Regions from separate parts of the Homo sapiens genome. Here region 2 is linked to region 1. The links come from fine-mapping of genetic effects on gene expression. A gene starts in region 1. The other region holds a variant in brackets. All regions are shown on one strand. Distances are between the middles of the regions.

Region 1 (10,067 bases):
AGCAAGCCCTCACCTGACCCCAAATCTGTGGAACCTTGTTCTTGCACTTTCCAGGCTTCAGACTGTGATAAACACATTTCTGTTGTTTATAAGCTACTCACTTCATGCAATTTTGTTATGGCAGCCTGAACACACTGAGAGACCTATTTTCTCCAGAGACACTACAACCACTTTAAACCTAAAGAGCAAGAATGGGGAGCCACTAGAATAAAGCTACATTCCAGTATCACTGCTGGGATGTAGAGATGATGGTGGAAAAAGACTTGACAGAGCCCACTGAGGAAGGCAGCCCCACCTCTAATCTCACCCTGGGACTTTAAGACATGAATGAGTTGAGGGCAGATAGGTGACTTGAATTAAATTCCAGGTGACGGTTTTACAGTTGTTGGCACCAGCAGATGGGGATCAGAGGGCCCACGTGTGGAGAGAAGGGTAGAGGGTGGGGGTCTAGGCTAGTTGTATGTTGATAGGGGCCATCGATGGTAGACTCTGGATGAGGCAGAATAGGCGGGAAGAAGGGGGAATGGCACCAGGAAGCATCAGGTTGGCCCCCAAGAGTTGGACCTGCCGTCTCTGAGAGACTGGCTGGCAATAGGTCCTGCTGCAGTGGAGCAGTGGGTCCAGAGGAGGTTATTTTTGCTTTTAATATGAAGGTGGGTCCTTAATCATCAGAACAGGAACTGAGAATGATGGTTAGTGTTTCTGAAAGAAAAAAGAGCCATGGGGGAATGGAATCAACCCTTTTTCACAATTTGTTAGGCAGTTTCACAAATTAACTTATTTGAAACTAGCCTCCACTCTAGATAAGGAAGCCAAGGATCAGAGAAATCACATAATTTGTCCAAGTCACATCCCTGGTATGCAGGCAGAGTAGGGATTTGAACTCAACTGTCTCTGTCTTCAGAGAGTGTGCTTTTTCCAGATCTTGCCTGGAAGACATGATGTTCCTCCTTTCCCTTTGTATCTAGCCCCTACTTTACTCCTCAGCCACTCTCTCGTTTCTTCTGCTTCATGCAATTCATTCTCCTGCCATCTTTTCTTCTTCTTTAACTTGCCATAATTTGCAATAGATATATTTATTAAACAAAATCAATTTTTAAAGTAGACTGGTTGAAAATGTTATAATTTTCTAAAAAACAAGATTCCAATTCCTCTAAAACTAAAGAAGAGTTGTTTTGTACTTATTTATAAAAAGCCTGTAACTCATTTTCTTTTCTTTATGTGTCATTATAATCAAGGGAAACAGTAGGGCCATGAATATATGATCAAAATATTAGAGTTGAGAGATGTAGAAACTGAAACACAAAGAAGCTCAGCGACTTATTTAGAATAAATTGGCTAGTTCCTGAATGATCCAAATAATTGAGAGAAATAGGGAAAATCCTGAGTTAACAAATAAATACAGTTTCAAAAGTGTGTTTGTAAATTAGTTCTCTGGCATTTGGTATATTTCTCTAATAAAAAGAAAATTGATGTGACCTGAGTGTCTCATAGAAAACAGCTGAAACTCATTATTTATATCTAAGAATAGTATAAAAAACTCCCCACAATTATTATGTAGTACTTATAATGAACACAACACAAAGACAATACACTGAGAAAGAAGGACTTTAATTTTTAAATGTGTAAGAAGAGAAAATTTAATTAGAAAGATGAAAGACTTAACTGGCGAATCCGGCAGAGATTCTAAAGATGACATTTGGACACTGATAAAGGCCATTGGGGGATGAATGACAGACACTTGTTTTTAAGAGTGTGAAAGCTGTCCTTATCAAAATGGAGTCAATTGTGTTAAAAAACGAGACAAATCCCTGACAAATGGCTGGGGAAGGCCATGAAGGGAGGGTTCTAATACATAAATGCCTGATAACAAGAACTATTGAAAAATACTGCAAAAACCACAACTTTGGACAAAGGCCATTGCAACCACACACACACACACACACACACACACACACACACACAGAGAGAGAGAGAGAGAGAGAGAGAGAGAGAGAGAAAATGAGAACTTCTGCGGAGACATCTGCCCAGCAACTGCCTGTACAACATTAGACTGGTGCCACTCTAGTTATTGATTACTGTAGCCAAGGATAATTATCTCAAAAACAATGATGTAATCTTCCTTCTTCCTTGAAAAACCTTTGCCTTCCTTTACCTCCCTGAATACGCAAAATAGTTTAATATGGCACACATATTCCCATTGCAATGCCCATTCCCAAATAAACATCATTTTCTTTTAGAAAGTCTCCCTCTCTGTTTGTTATTAGGCTGACAAGAGGTAGTGAAAGAGATTTCCTGAGTGCCTATCATTTATATCACTCAGTAGTTAAGAACATCAGTTGTTCAAAATCCATCAATTAAATACACAATTCAAAGCAGAATCTTTATGTGGCAATCTCTCTTTATTCTAAATAAGTCGCTGAGCTTCTTTGTGTTTTAGTTTCTACATCTCTCAACTCTAATATTGTACCTTCCACTCCAGCCATTTTAGACAGTTCAAATCACACAGACACAAAGAGATACTTTCCTTCTCTTGGTTTTGCAGTTCACTTAACCAGACCACCCTTTCTCCCCTTCATAGTTTGATAAAATATCCTCTCTCAAAAGCCTAATCCAAATGCTATGTCAACCATCTGACAAAATATTAGCTCCTTCCTCTGAAACTAATTGCATTTTGATTGCATTCTAGGCATTTCTTTCCTGATTTATAGTCTCTCATTGTAGTGTTCATATACATGCTTTATCTATAATATTAAGGTGCAAACTCTTAGGTATGGCCTTTCCACAGGTGCTCAGTGTATAGTTGTCAAATACAATTAAATTGTATCAATTTAGGTTTCTGTTCAAGGCTTCTCAGAAATGGCTTCATATCACCTTTGCAAAATAAGTGTTCCCTTCATTTCCATTCCCTAGCCTTTATTTTCTTTATACCACGCATCACACAGGACATATTAGATACTTGTTTATTGTTTGTTTCCTCCACCAGAATGTATGACCTATGAGGGCAAGGCCTTTGTTTCACTTGCCGTGTTTACCCCAGCACCTAGATCTGTGCCTGGTCCAGAGTAGGAGTTGAATAAACTGATATTACTGGAAGTGAAAGAAATGCTACCTGGAGTATTTCAAGACTCTGAGTCCAATAACTCATCGATTTTGTCAGTATTTAGCTGCAGGACATAGAGCAAGTCACTAACCCATGATGAGTCTCATGTCCCTGTAAAATCAATGATTGTTAAATACAGGATCTCTGAGGTCCTGTTTAACTCCATTAATGTGAGAGTAGAAAGTGAGAGAAGCAAACTGAGTTCAAGTGGATATGGGTGAGAAAAAAGAATGCTCTAGGCAAGACTACAGGTCCTGCTTTTGGTGCAGGGCAGAGAGAAAGTAGAAAAGCTGGAGCAACGGAGACAGATGCTCAGAAAAGGGCTGCCTTCAGATATATTAATACCTGTAAAGAAAACCCGGGGGAGGTGCTGACTTGGGGAGAGCCTGAGGCTGAGTAGACAGCTGGGCTGGTGGAGAGGAGGCTCCCAGAGGAAAGGCAACCCGCCAGTGGGGTGGGGGTGATGGGGTTGGCAAGCTCCACAAATTTTGCAATTTTGCCTCCTTTCCCAGAGAACAACCACTCTGTTGTGACTTTGTCAGGGCTGGAATAGGCATGTGGTTCACACGTGAAAGCGAATGAGAAGTTCTATACAAAGAACCACATTTGCTGTCCATTTAATTTATTCTTCCTCATTCTCAAAGAAGACTAGATCCTCATCTCTTACCCTTAACCTCCACGTTGAGAAGCACTTTGCCCTTCCCATTCTAGCATATGTCTAGAACACTGCATCTAGTGTCGCAAACTTGTCCTCTTGCCCCCTCTGCCCTGGCACCTTCCCTCCCCACACCAGTAAGTCTGAGAAGGTCCCTGTGTCTTCTACTTTTCCTTTTCCAGCATATGGAGACAAAAGTGATTATATCCCGGATGCTAATCCGCCATGTTGACCTTTAATAACCCCAGTCCCATGAATACCTCCTGATTCCTAGGATTTTTTTTTTAAACTGTCCTTAGCATAAGAACATGTCAACCTTGATGCTATTGCCCACATTGTAGGCTATGAAGCATACGGCATTCTCACCTGTTCCGGAGGGCTGCCTTTAATTGTCTTGCACAGAGCAGTATACTCTTTCCTTACGGTATATAAGGCCAGGGTCTGGGGAGTAACAGTGCAGAAATTTATCTGCTTGCCGCCGCCCAAGGCCACGCTTCTGTCTACCACATCCTCCAATAGCACCCCTATTACCTACAGACTGGATTTGTCTGTCTCGTTCTTTGGTTTCTTGACTCCTTCGCGTTTGGGGGCTGCTTTGCATATAAAGCCCTTTCACAGAACACAGCACCATGCTAGTACAATACGCTGTAGATTCTCCCTCCCTCCCCCTCTCTCTCATATACTCATATATTTTATGTTGAACCAATATGAGGCATTGCTCAAATTTAAGTCATATTAAAGTTCTAGGCTAGTTTTGAAAACAGAAACTGATTGGAAGCAGAGGTTTTCAAATAGCCCACATACGCTACTAGAAGGCTGTACATTTAAGAGAGGGCCATCTAGGAAGCAATAATAGGCATTAAAACAACAACAAAACAACAAAACAAAACAGAAACAAAAACAACTTGGGAAACGGCCCTCCTTTCACGTTTTTTCTATCCCATCGACAAAGGCGCGCTGTCCTTAGCTGCGATGATTTTGTCTCGCCTCCAAAAAGACGCCCACGCACTATGTTGAGCACCCAAGTGAGGCTACGGTTCCTGCGGTCACAGAGGGCAGGGAGGCTCAAGCACCTCCAAAACCCCGAGCCCTGGACAGCTCCCCAGGCCCTTCCCGCGGCGCGAGGACAAGAGGTCTCCGGGGCCCTCGGGGGAGCGGCGCCTCCTCCTGGTTCCAGCAGCTCTGCGGCCGCTCCCCACCCAGGCCCGCGAGACCAGCGGGACAGTCCGCGCCGCGGGAGACCAACTGGGACGAGCCGCGACCCACGCAGGCGCGCTGAGGCCGGGGCAGGGGCGGGCCCGGCTGGCGCGGCCGGCCTGCGGTTGGGGCCCTGGCGGGGGTGGGACGGGCCAAGCCGGGCAGGGCCGGGGTGGGGCCGCTGGCGTTTCCGTTGCTTGGATCAGTCTAGGTGCAGCTGCCGGATCCTTCAGCGTCTGCATCTCGGCGTCGCCCCGCGTACCGTCGCCCGGCTCTCCGCCGCTCTCCCGGGGTTTCGGGGCACTTGGGTCCCACAGTCTGGGTGAGTGGTCGCAGCCCGGGGAGGGGGCTCCTTCTGGAGAGGAGAGCGTGGTCGCGGGGCACTGGATTCGCGCGGACGCTCGGCCGAGAGCTGTCCCGGTAGCTGCGAGAGGGCGGGTCGGCCCCGTGGCGGGGCCCTCCGGGCTGTCTGAGCGCCGCCGGGTCCCCGCGGACCTGCGCTTGGGGAGGGCACGAGTTGCAAATGGCGCGCTAAGCCCGAGGTTTCTTCTCTTTTGCAGTCCTGCTTCACCTTCCCCTGACCTGAGTAGTCGCCATGGCACAGGTAAGGCCGTGCGCCCCCCACTGCGCTGGATTTACCCACAACTTTGTATGCTGCGACGAGGGACTTTTAGGATTTGTCTGAGAGCCAAAAAGTTTAGGAGGAAAGGGAACCTGCTTTGGGGACATCGCTTCCACTTTTCTTGTTCCCCCTTTGCTTCCCTGCCCCCGTTTCTGTGTCCCGGTTCTTCCCGCTGAGCGCCCTCCGGAACCAGCACCGACGCCGCCAAGCTGCCTTCGCGCGCAACAGCTGGTGACGTGGCCGGATTTGTGTGCGCTCCCTTTTCATGAGTGAATGTGTAAAAGTGGGCCTTCCCCAAAATCCAGAGAGTAGCTCAAATTAGAACCGGAGCAAGAACAGCTCATCGTGGTCATGTGAGGCGAACGCATTCCCCCCCCACCCCGCCCCCCGACTTCCTTTATTTTTTTTCCGCAAAGTTTTCTGTATTTTAATACTGTGATTGAGCATTGGCTTTTTCCAGTTGCTCAGCCCAGTTTTACTAAAACTGTAGGACGTAGGCTCTGATTTTTTTTTTAATCCAAAAGATTAAACACAAGCGCTGTTTTTCTTAAGCAATGAACTCGTGGAACGAGTTCTCAATTGAATTTGCCTTGGGACTGTTTCAGAAATTGATAATCTACTACAGGCTTTCTTTACTGTTTTTTTTTTTTCCTTTTTTTTTGAGACGGAGTCTCACTCTGTCGCCCAGGCTGGAGTCCAGTGACGTAGTGATCTCGCTCACTACAACCTCTGCCTCCCGGGTTCAAGCAATTCTCGTGTCTCAGCTTTCCAAGTAGCTGGGATTACAGGCGCCCCACCATGCCCAGCTAATTTTGTATTTTTAGTAGAGGCGGGGTTTCACCATGTTGGCCAGGCTGGTCTCAAACTCCTTGCCTCAAGTGATCCTCCCGCCTCGGCCTCAGGACTGTAATCCCACTGCGCCTGGTTTCTTTACTGTTATTAATGTTTATCAAAAATGTAGGAAAGAGAAGATAGTTTAAGGTCTTTAAATATTGACCATGTTATACAGTCTTTTGTGAATAAGATACCAGGGCTTAAAAACTCTAAAACTGATTTCACAGATCTTGTCAATCTAACCGGCTTGTCAGAGTCCAGATAGTTTTTTTTAAACAAGTGTTTTAACTGCTAAAACAATGCTGTCTCTTATTTATAGTTCACTTTTTATCAGATTGACTTATCAAAATTGAAAAAGGTTTCTTGGTCCTTTCCAAGTGAAAATGGGAGGATTAAGATTAGTTGATTACTTTATGAAACTTACACAGTGATCCCATTCTTACCTCCTCTTTTGCACTTAAATGTTACAGTAAACCAATTCTCATATTACTTCAAGTGGAAAGTTTGGTTTAAGTTCTTCTCCATAGAAAGGATACTTTTATGTGGAATTAACTTTCCTGAGTAATATTTTTCCTATCTTGATATGCTGGTGTGGTGATGTACATGAAGATTTAACAAGCATCGAATAATAATTCCCTCTATCTTTGCTCATTTAGCAGTTTCTTGAATCTCTTGTAAGTTCCCCAGTGATGTCTGAGGGTCCATCAATTCCTTTTCATTATGTAGACTGTTTACCCAAATAGTATAAGCGAACATATTTTCCAGTTGTGGACATTAATTTTAATAATTTCAAAGAATGATTAGTATCATAAAGGCCATGTGTATAGAAAACCTAGGAGAATGGTGGTTTGCATATAAAATTATGTACCTGAGCCCTATGACAATATAACACCAAGACTGTTTTCTATCAAAACTACAGTTTTTACTAATCATAAAAGTTACAAGTAATGTTTTAAAAAAGATACAGAGTGTTAAATTTTGTTCTAGTTTTGTTACTATTTTTGGAAATCATGAAAGTAAAACATTTTGTTAAAATATTTAGTATTGGCCAGGCATGGTGGCTCATGCCTGTAATCCTAGCACTTTGGGAGGCTGAGGCACGTGGATCACGAGGTCAGGAGTTCGAGACCAGCCTAACCAACATGGTGAGACCTCGTCTCTTCTAAAAATACAAAAATTAGCTGGGCATGGTGGTGCACAACTGTAATCCCAGCTACTCGGGAGGCTGAGGCAGGAGAATCACTTGAACCCGGGAGGCGGAGGTTGCAGTGAGCTGAGATCGCGCTGCTGCACTCCAGCCTGGGCAACAGTGAGACTACGTCTCAAAAAAAAAGTTTAGTATTAAAGTTGGGTGCGGCGTCTGAGCAGTAAGAATGTCATGAAGGCAAAACTAGGCTACGTAATTGTTCATTAGAAGCTTCATGAACATCAGAATTTTTTTGTTTATTTTTTATTTATTTTTTATTATATATATATTTTTATTATACTTTAAGTTCTAGGGTATGTGTGCACAACATGCAGGTTTGTTACATATGTATACATGGTGCCATGTTGGTGTGCTGCACCCATTAACTCAATATTTACATTAGCTGTATCTCCTAATGCTATCCCTCCCCCCTCCCCCCCGCCCACAATAGGCCCCGGTGTGGGTGTGTGATGTTCCCCTTTCTGTGTCCAAGTGTTCTCATGAACATCAGAATTATCTCTATGGTATATGTTTAAGTTACAAGGTTTGATCAGAAATATTTTCGGTTGGTTTAAAATTATTATAATAATTTAAAAAAGCCCTGTGCCGAGCAAGCAGGATAAATGTAAATAAATAAATTTGAGATGAAACTCCTTCCAGAGGAGCTGACTGGATATTGATTGCATCTTTTCATGCCATTCATTTTTTAAAGTCAAGTCTCTCTGGAGCTAATGTTCACTTTTGGGATCTTAGATCAGGGTTACCTGTTTACCCGTGGCCTGTGCTGCTCCTGGTGATTTCTCTTGGTTCCTTATCTGTTTAACTCTTAAGTTCATTTTGGCTGCTGAGAAAGAACTAGATCAAAAACTACTTGGCTGCTTTGCAAGCCACTGAGCAATTCATTGGCATTCAGCAAACCCTGATTTCCTTATCTAATATCCAGTTCTCCTTGGAAGGCCTACATAGGTGATCAGGCTAGTTACAGGCAGGCAGTCCGGCTTTCTTCTTTTAATGACTTAGAAGTTCAAAATGGTAAAAATATAACAGTGCTTTTACAGCATAGATTCATTCCTGAAATACATTTTATTCATATAACCTTCATACTATTCTAAAATTTCACAAATGCATCTGTTTTTTAAAAATTAGGGCTCCTAAGACCTTTGCTTTAAGTGCTTCTTAGACGCAGTCTTTCAGTTTAGTTAGTTTACATAATATGTAAACATATCATCAATTGATTAATTGCAAGGAATTATACTCCTGGCTTCATTTCTTTGGACACTAGTTTTTTGGGTTTTTTTTTTTCTCCCCCGAGATGGAGTCTCGCTTTGTTGTCCAGGCTGGAGTGCCGTGGCGTGATCTCAGCTCACTGCAACCTCTGCTTCCTGGGTTCAACTGATTCTCTTCCCTCAGCCTCCGGAGTAGCTGGGATTAGAGGCATGTGCCACCACGCCTGGCTAATTTTTGTATTTTTAGTAGAGACGGAGTTTCGCCATGTTGGCCAGGCTAGTCTCGAACTCCTAACCTCAAGTGATCCGTGTGCCTCGGCCTCCCAAAGTGCTGGGATTACAGGCATGAGCCACTGCGCCTGGTGGGACACTAGTTCTTAACTGTTCTCTTTTTCATCCATGCATGCATTCATGAATGCATGAGGCTTTTGCATTTTCACTATGTGCCAAGTATTGTTAAACATGAGCGCAATGGGAAATGGATCTAAGATTTATTGATATAATAGATGCATTGCCAAGTCTTTTGTGTGCATTATTTAGTCCTCATAACACAGTTTTGGAAATAGGTATTACTATTTTTGTTTCACAGAAGGGGAAATTGAGGTTACTTAGCTGGCATTCTTTGTATGGGACAAAGGAGGGAAGCCATCATACAGAGAGGTAACAACAGCAAATAAATACTTAGGGGTGTAAAAGAGTTTGGCATGATGGAGTGAAACTGCAGTGAGGTGGGGAAATCAAGCCTTGTCTTGGAAGGGATAGAACTTTTCAAGTGTTATTCATGGAATGCCCAATGGAACAATTTGGTAAAAGAGCATACTCTCCTCTGACCTTCAATGTGAACTCATGGGAGGCCAATGCCACCTGCTCACTTTAACTCACTCAAGACATCACTGGAGTTATTCTTGGGCAACTTGAGCACACAATTTAACTTTCCATTTTATTGGTGTTTGTCAAGGGAAGTCATTCTTACACTGGTAAAGAGACACAACATTAAACACAGAGCATTAAAGAAATACACAACAAAAATTTAAATCATTTTACAAATCTTCACTTTGTTATCAAAACCTTCTTTTCTACCACGATGCAAACAACTTAGTCTGTTCTCCAGTGATGTTTTTTTTCCCTTGCATTTGATTTTAAGAAACAGGTCAAAGGTGGTAGGATGGATAGACAAATGGAAAGAAGCAAAAACAAGTAAGATGGAGCATGAAAAGGAAAGGAAATTACACAAAAGTAAGCAA
Region 2 (9,748 bases), 35 kb after region 1:
AAACAGTATAATACTGTGGCATGAATAGACAGACAAAACAGCAAGTTCAGATATGGAAACAAATCATTTGGAAATTTAGTATATGTTAAAGGTAGGTCTTAATTTGCTGGGTAAAGATAGCATTTTTTTCTAACAAATGGTGTGAAGACAGTTGGGGAGCCATCTAGGAAAATATAAGGCTTTTTCTATACCTCATGTATCAGGTAACTCTCAAAATGAAACATTTAAACTTAAAAATAAAATCATAAACATATGAGAAAGAAGCATGGAGGGATTTCATCATACCTGCACCTTCTAGATTCTCTGGGAAGCAGATGCTGAGATGGAGTTAGGGATGCAACAGGTTTATTGAATGGAACAGGTAGAAGGCAGGATTGGGCAAGGGGTGTCATCAGATTGCACTGCAGACCTGACCAAATCTTTGCCAGTATCATGTGGAACTCTGAGGCAAAGAGTTCCTGCAAAGAGCCCTTTGTGAGACAGAAGTGCCTGGGCCCTGTGCCACCACCTTCCTTACTCAATTATTGGCTAAGTGTCTTCTGGAGAAGAGCTTGGCTTGGCTGGAAAGCTGAGGCAAAACCTGAAGGAGATTAAGAGTTGGAAGGCTGTCAGCAACCCACATTTTCACAGCTTGGAACTGAGTATTTTCTTGAAAGGGGATCTAAGTGGTGCAGTTCCATGTCTGCCATAATGATCTTGAAGTGTGAGGCCTTTCTATCACCCAAAATCCAGAAGCCATAGGAGAAAAGATGATTATTTTTGATTTCCTAAAAATCAAAAACTACATGGAAGGCAGGCCAGGCACAGTGGCTCATGCCTGTAATTCCAGCACTTTGGGAGGCCAAGGTGGGTGGATTGCTTGAGCACAGGAGTTTGAGACCAGCATGGACAACATGGCAAAACCCCATTTTTATTTTTTAAAAAACCAAACAAAAAATTAGCTGGATGTGGTGGCACACGTCTCTGGTCTCAGCTATTTGGGAGACTGAGGTGAGAGAATTGTTTGAGCACAGGAGCACAAGGCTGCAGAGAGCCTGAAGGAGGGAAGGAGGAAAGGAAGGAAGGAAGGGAGGGAGGGAGGAAGGGAGGAAGGGAAGACGGGAGGGAGGGAGGAAAGGAAGGAAGGGAGGGAGGAAGGGAGGAAGGGAAGACGGGAGGGAGGGAGGGAGGGAGGGAAAATCACCACCAAGACAATTTAAATGACAAACGGGAAAACATTTACAGTTCATACAACAAAGATCTAATCTCCTTTGTACATGCTGACACACCTTGTTTTATTGTACTTTGCAAACAATTAAAAAAAAATTTTTTTAAACAAATCATAAGTTTGTGGCAACCCTGCATTGAGTCAGTGTATCAGCACCATTTTTCCAATAGCATGTGCTCACTCTTTATCTGTTTGTCACATTTTGGTAATCCTTGCAATATTTTAAGTTTTCATTATTATGTATCTTATGGTGATCTGTGATCAGTGATCTTCAATGTTACTGTCATAATTAAGGTGCTATGAACCATGCCCATTTAAGACAGTGGGCTTAATTGATAAATATGTGAGTTCTGACTGCTCCACCGACTGGCTGTTCCCTCATCTCTCTCTCTCTTTCTCTCTCTCTCTCTGATCCTTTCTATTCCCTGAGACAAAACAATATTGAAATTAGGCCAATTAATAACCCTGCAATGGCCTCTGAGTGTTCAAATGAAAGGAAGAGACTCACACATCTCTTATTTTAAATGAAAAGTTCAAAGTGATTCAGCTTAGTGAGTAAGGCAGGTCAAAAGCCAAGGCAGGCTGAAAGCTAGGCTACTGGTGCCAAACAGCCAAATTGAGAATAAATGTAAATTTTAATTTTCTTTCTTGAAGAAAATTAAAAGTGCTACTCCATTGAACACATGAATGATTAAGACAGTGAAATAGCCGTATTGCTGATATAGAGAAAGTTTGAGTAGTCTGGTTAGAAGATCAAACCAGCCACAACATTCCCTTAAGTCAAAGCCCAATCCAGAGCAAGATCCTAATTTTCAATTCCATGAAGGCTGAGAGGTGAGGAAGCTGCAGAAGAAAAGTAAGTGAGCAGTTTTGGTTCATGCGGCTTAAGGAAAGAAGCCGTCTCTGTAATAGAAAAGTGCAAATTGAAACAGCAAGTGCTGATGCAGAAGTTGCAGCTAGTTCTCCAGATGACCTAGCTAAGATAATTGATAAAGGAGGCTACACTAAACCACAGATTTTTAGTGTAAACAAACAGCCTTCTATTAGAAGATGCAATTTATAGCTAGAGAGGATACATCAATGCCTGGCTAAAGCTTCAAAGAACAGGCTGACTCTTTAGGGGCCAATGCAGCTGGTGATGTTAAGCTGAAGCCAGTGCTCATTTACCATTCCCTGGATCCTAGGGCCCTTAAAAATCATGCTAAATCTACTCTGCCTGCATTCTATAAATGGTACAACAATGGATGATAGCACATCTGTTTATAGCATGGTTTGCTGTTATTTTAAGCCCACTTTTGAGACCTGCTCAGAAAAAAAATCCTTTTCAAAATATTACTGTACATTGACAATACACCTCATCACTTAAGAGCTCTGATGGAGATTTAGGAGGAGCTGAATGTTGTTTTCATGCCTGCTAACACAACATATATTCTGCACTCCATAGATCAAGGAGTAATTTCAACCTTTAAGTCTTATTAAAAAATGTACTTTATAAGGGCATAGCTGCCATAGATAGTGATTCTTTTGATGGATCTGGGCAAAGTAAATAGAAAACATTCTGGAAAAGATTCACCATTTTAGATGCCATTGATATGGTTTGGCTTTGTGTTCCCACCCAAATCTCATGTTGAATTATGATTCTGAGTGCTGAGTGGTGTGAAGTAACTGGATCACTGGGGTGGTTTCTAATGGTTTAGTATCATCCCCTAGTGTTGTCTCATAATAGAGTTCTCACAAGATCTGGTTGTTTGCAAGTGTGTAGCACCTCTCCCGTCACTCTCTCTTCCTCCTGCTCCACCATGGTAAGATGTACTTGCTTCTCCTTTGCCTTCTGCCATGATTGTAAGTTTCCTGAGGCCTCCCAGCCATGCTTCATGTACAGCCTGTAGAACTGTGGAATCAATTCAATTTCTTTTCATAAATTACCCAGTCTTAGGCATTTCTTTATAGCAGTGTGGGAACAGATTAATACAGCCATTAAGAATATTCATGATTCATGGGCAGAGGTAAAAATATCAGCATTACCAGGAGTTTGGAAGGAATTCATTCTAAACCTCATGGATGACTTTCAGGGGCCTAGGACTTCAGTGGACGAAGTAATTGCAGACATGGTGGAAATGGCAACAGAAGTAGAAGTAGAAGTGAAGCCTGAAGATGTGACTGAATTGCTGCAATGTCATGATAAAACTTGAATGGACAAAGAGTTGCTCTTATAGATGAGCAAAGAAATTAGTTTCTTAAGATGGAAACTATTCCTGGTGAAGATGCTGTGAACATTGTTGAAACAACAACAAAGGATTTAGAATGTTCCATAAACTTAGTTGATAAAGCAGCCATAGGGTTTGAGAAGATTGACTCCAATTTTGAAAGAAGCTCTACTACTAGACACTGTGGCTTATGCTTAGCTACTCAGGAGGCTGAGGCAGGAGGACTGCTTGAGGCCAGGAGTTCAAGACCAGCCCAGGCAACATAGGGAGATCCTGTCTCTCAAAAAAGAAATGAAAAAATAATGAGCTTGGTGTGGTGGTGCATGCCTGTAGTTCCAGCTGCATGGGAGGCTGAGGCCTAAGAGTTTGAGGCTGCAGTAAGCTATGATCATGCTGCTGCCCTCCAGCCTGGGTGACAGAGCGAGAGCTTGTCTCTTAGAAAAAAAAGTCTGTTTCAGAGAAATCATTTGTTAAAAAAAGAGTCAATCAATGCGGCAAACTTCATTATTGTCTTATTCTAAGAAATTGCTGCAGTATCCCAAGCAGCAGCCATTAACGTCGAGGCAAGATCCTCCACTAGCAAAAAGACTATGGCTCGCTGAAGGCTCAGATGTTTGTTAGCATTTTTTAGCAATAAAGTAGTTTTAAATTAAGGTATATACATTTTTTAAAGGGAAAAAAACCCCAAACCAGTACTATAGTAAGAAAAAAAAAGGGCAAAAGAGATGAATAGGCAGTTCATAGAATAAGAAATATGGCCCTTAAGCATGAAAAGATGCTTGATTTAACTCATAATAAGGGAAGCGCAAATTCAGATTACACTGAGATTCCTTTTTCCACCTATCAGATTGTCAAAAATCCAAAAGTTGGAGAACATCGTTGTTGTGACGGCAAGCTACAGTGAACTAGGAATTCTCACAGATGGTCAGTAGGAATAAAAAGTGGTATAACCCCTCTGGAGGGTAGTTTGGCAATATTTACCCAATCTATAAATGTATTTACCTTCTGACCCAGCAATAGCGCTCTGTGCATTTTTCTACCCATCACCTGCATTTATGAAATGCTGTGCGTGTAAGTTTATTATTGTGACATTGTCAATTCTCCTTAAATTCAACTATACATTTAATGTGATCTCATTAAAATACCCAGAGAAAATTTTTGGAAGTTTATGTGAAAAAACAGACAAGTAAGAGTGCCAGGAGAATTCTTTCTAAAGAATTGGACTGTGATCAGGTAGCCTGATGCCTCCAGCTTTGTTCTTTTTGCTTAGGATTGTCTTGGCTATGTGGGCTCTTTTTTGGTTCCACATGAACTTTAAAGTAGTTTTTTCCAATTTTGTGAAGAAAGTCAGTGGTAGCTTGATAGGGATAGCATTGAGTCCATAAATTACCTTGGACAGTATGGCCATTTTCACGATATTGATTCTTCCTATCCATGAGCATGGAATGTTATTCCATTTGTTTGTGATCTCTTTTATTTCCTTGAGCACTGGTTTGTAGTTCTCCTTGAAGAGGTCCTTCACATCCCTTGTTAGTTGGATCAGTTGGATTCCTAGGCATTTTATTCTCTTTGTAGCAATTGTGAATGGGAGTTCACTCATGATTTGGCTCTCTGTCTGTTATTGGTGTATAAGAATGCTTGTGATTTTTGCACCTTGATTTTTTATCCTGAGACTTTGCTTAAGTTGCTTATCAGCTTAAGGAGATTTGGGGCTGATACAATGGGGTTTTCTAAATATACAATCATGTCACCTGCAAACAGAGACAAGTTGACTTCCTCTTTTCCTAATTGAATACCCTTTATTTCTTTCTCTTGCCTGATTGCCCTGGCCAGAACTTCCAACACTATGTTGAACAGGAGTGGTGAGAGAGGGCATCCTGGTCTTGTGCCAGTTTTCAAAGGGAAGGCTTCCAGTTTTGCCCATTCAGTATGATATTGGCTATGGGTTTGTCATAAATAGCTCTTATTATTTTGAGATACGTTCCATCAATACTACAAGGCTACAGTAACCAAAACAGCATGGTATTGGTACCAAAACAGAGATATAGACCAATAGACCAATGGAACAGAACAGAGGCCTCAGAAATAACACCACACATCTACAATCATCTGATCTTTGACAAGCCTGACAAGAACAAGCAATGGGGAAGGATTCTTTATTTAATATTTAATAAATGGTGCTGGGAAAACTGGCTAGCCATATGTAGAAAGCTGAAACTGTATCCCTTCCTTACACCTTATGCAAAAATTAACTCAAGATGGATTAAAGACTTAAATGTAAGACCTAAAACCATAAAAACCCTAGAAGAAAACCTAGGCAATACCATTCAGGACATAGGCATGGGCAAAGACTTCATGACTAAAACAGCAAAAGCAATGGCAACAAAAGCCAAAATAGACAAATGGGATCTAATTAAACTAAAGAGCTTCTGCACAGCAAAAGAAACTATCATCAGAGTGAACAGGCAGCCTATGGAATGGGAGAAAATTTTTGCAATCTACCCATCTGACAAAGGGCTAATATCCAGAATCTAGAAAGAACTTAAACAAATATAGAAGAAAAAAACAACCCCATCAAAAAGCGAGCAAAGGATATGAACAAACACTTCTCAGAAGAAGACATTTATGCAGCCAACAGACCTATGAAAAAAAGCTCATCATCACTGGT[C/T]ATCAGAGAAATGCAAATCAAAACCACAATGAGATACCATCTGACGCAGGAAACGACACATGCTGGAGAGGATGTGGAGAAATAGGAATGCTTTTACACTGTTGGTGGGAGTGTAAATTAGTTCAACCATTGTGGAAGACAGTGTGGCGTTTCCTCAAGGATCTAGAACTAGAAATACCATTTGACCCAGCCATCCCATTACTGGGTATATACCCAAAGTATTATAAATCATGCTACTATAAAGACACATGCACACGTATGTTTATTGTGGCACTATTCACAATAGCAAAGTCTTAGAACCAACCCAAATGTTCACCAATGATAGACTGGATTAAGAAAACGTGGCACACATACACCATGGAATACTATGCAGCCATAGAAAAGGACGAGTTCATGTCCTTTGCAGGGACATGGATGAAGCTGGAAACCATCATTCTCAGCAAACTATCACAAGGACAGAAAACCAAACACCACATGTTCTTACTCATAGGTGGGAGTTGAACGATGAGAACACATGGACACAGGGCAGAGAACATCACACACCAGGGCCTGTCGTGGGGTGGGGAAGCGGGGAGGGATAGCATTAGGAGAAATACCTAATGTAAATGACGAGTTGACGGATGCAGCAAACCAACATGGCACATGTATACCCATGTAACAAACCTGCACGTTGTGCACATGTACCCTAGAACTTAAAGTATAATTAAATAAAAAATTAAAAAAAAAGAATTGGACTGTGATAAGGGGCTAGAATGACCAGATACTAAAACAAAAATTACAACTGTTGTAACATTTTTTAGAGGCCCCCCAAATGTTTTAAAAACGTAAATCCATTATTGCTACCATTATCTTCTCATACGCAAATGATTCAAAGTACATTCATTATATTTCCCACAGACAAATATGTCTTCCTGATTTTTCTATTTTTGGTAGTGGCTCTAAAATGAAGTGTAGTACTCATACAGTAGGCAGACAGACCAATTAAATAGAATAAAAATGACAGAAATAGGCCTCAATACAGATAGAAACGTAGTATAAAGCATCATTTTAAGTCAAAAGAGAAAATATAACTATTAAATAAATAGTGCCAGGACCCACTCTTTTGGATAGACATCTCAAAAAACTAAAACTGGATCCATAACTCCCAGCTCAGGATGATCAATGATTTAAATATAAAAAGAAGAAATCATACAAATATTAAAATTAACTCTATTATCTGACTTTGGAACAAGTGTTAATATGTTATAAAATCTAGTAGCCATAAATGACAAAAAGACTGATTAAATTCAACTAATAAACCTTAAACTTTTAGAATTGAAAGTTAAAGATTTATGAATGGTCAAAGGCACAATAGGCAAGTTTAAAAGAAAAACAATCACCTACAGAAAAATATTTGCAACTCATAGGTGTAGTTTCCCTAATACATATTGAGGTCCTTCATATTGAAAGGAAAGGATCAATAACTCATGAGAAATGAAGGCCAATGACATGAAAAGGTCATTTACAGAGCAGGCAATACAAGTTATCAGTCAACAATTGGAAAGATGTTTAATCTCGTTCATAATAAAAATAATGCAAGATAAAACTATGGTGAGGTACAATGTTTCAATGAGCAGATTAGCCAAGACAAAAATAATTGTTGATAAAGGCCTTCTCAATCAGCTGCTCTTATAACTGGATGGTGCCATTGTGAATTGTTCTATCCTCTTTGGAGGGCATCTGGCATTATAGATCACATTTATAAATATATATATACTCTTTGATTCAACAGTTGTATTTCTAGAAGTTGTCTTATGATACCACTGATGTGCAGTAACATGGGCATAAGGCTATGCATTGTAGCATTTCTTCTAATAACAAAATATGGAAACATTTTAAAAGCCTGTTAATAGGGGGCTGGGTAAAGTAATGATGGTACATTTGTACAATGGATACAGCACAGCCACAAAGAGTAAGAAAGCTTCCTCTGTTCTGATGTGGAAAAATACTGAGAATTAAGGAATATTGTTAAATGAAGATATTGAGATGTAGAATAATGGTCACAATATGGTTACCCTTTGTGTAAAAAAAGGAAAAATAAGAATTCATGTATGCATTTGCTGTGCAAGAATAGAATACTTTTGAAGGATACATGAGAAACTAGTAATAATGATTGTGTGTGCAGAAGAAAACTGGGTAGATGAGGGACAGGGAAAAGAGGGAGATATTTCACTGTATACCTTTTAAATCTTTTGATTGTTGAATCAGGTGAATATGTATTTTAAAACATTACCCTAAAATAAATACATAAAATCTTTGATAATTCATAATGGAAAAACATGAAGAGGAACATAATGAAAGTTTCTAAAACACTTTCCTTGTAAACCACATGAGTGTGGGGGAACATGATGGCTATTGCTCAGCTCAGTCTCTGCTTGATTTGAGATTGCGCAATTCTGCAAAGCTCAGGTATTACCAATTCAGGATAATCTTGAAGTTAGCAAATGGCCAGCCCAGTTTCAAGTTAAGTCCAGTTTCAACTTACTTGCTTTTTTATTTTTTTAGAGTTAGGTATATTGAAGCTGAGTTTACATTCAGTAAAATTCATCTTTTTTAGGTGTACAGTGTCTTGAATGTTGTCAAATGCATGCAATTATGAAACCATCACAACAATTAAGTTATAGGATATTATCATTACCCCCATCTTCTCCCCCAAAAGTCTTCTAAAACCCTCTCATAGTCAATCCTTTTTGCCTACTCCCAAACTCAGGTAATTACTAACCTGGTTTCAGTTTCTATTGTTTTTTTTTTTCTCCCAGGATGTCATATAAATGGAATCACACAGTATAGCATTTTGAGTATGAATTCTTTCTTTTTTTTTTATTTTTTACTTTTTGAGACGGAGTCTTGCTCTGTCACCCAGGCTGGAGTACAGTGGCGTGATCTTGGCTCACTGTAACCTCCGCTTCCTGAATTCAACTGATTCTCCTGCCTTAGCCTCCTGAGTAGCTAGGATTACAGACACCCCCCACACCTGGCTAATTTTTGTATTTTCAGTAGAGACGGGGTTTCGTCATGTTGGCCAGGCTGGTCTCAAACTCCTAACTTCAGGTGATCCACTGGCCTTGGCCTCCCAAAGTGATGGGATTACAGGCATGAGCCACTGCGTCCAGCTGAGTCTGAATTCTTTCAAAGAGCATAATGCATTTGAGATACAACCTTCTTATAGTGTGTATCAGTAATTAGTTTGTCCTTGTTTTCTGAATAATATTCTGTTTTATGGATATAACACAGTACATTTATTCATTCATCAGGTGGTAGACATCAGTGTTGTTTCTAGTTCTGAGTGATCATGAATAAAATCACTATAAAGATTCATGTACAATATTTATGTGGATATATGCTATTTCTCTTGGATAAATAAGAATGGGATCGCTGGGTTATATGGTAAGTCTATGTGTAACTGTATAAAAACTGTTTCTCACAATAATGGAACCATTTTTCTTCCTACAGCAATGTGTGTGTGTGTGTGCATTTATACATATACATAAATTTTCATATATGAATATCAAATATATATACCTACCACAAACACAGTGGCTTAAAATATCACAAATGATTATCTTATAGTTCTGGAAGTCAGAAGTCCAAAATTAGTATCACTGGACTAAAGTAAAGGTGTGGGCA

What was found. PIP is the estimated chance that this variant, and not a neighbour inherited with it, causes the effect.
Region 2: its variant is fine-mapped to the expression of ANXA5 in blood mononuclear cells (TOPMed, PIP above 0.99).

Annotation. Positions count from the first base shown.
Region 1 is chr4:121,692,073-121,702,139 of GRCh38, reverse strand. It overlaps ANXA5 (annexin A5), which reads left to right and starts at 5,160. Exons shown (of 13, transcript NM_001154.4): 1 at 5,160-5,277; 2 at 5,516-5,559. The coding sequence starts at 5,551. RefSeq lists a silencer at 4,792-5,211.
Region 2 is chr4:121,657,083-121,666,830 of GRCh38, reverse strand. No RefSeq gene overlaps it. Among named protein-coding and RNA genes, the nearest start is that of ANXA5, 35 kb to the left of the region's middle. The variant C/T (reference allele first, on the strand shown) is at 6,083.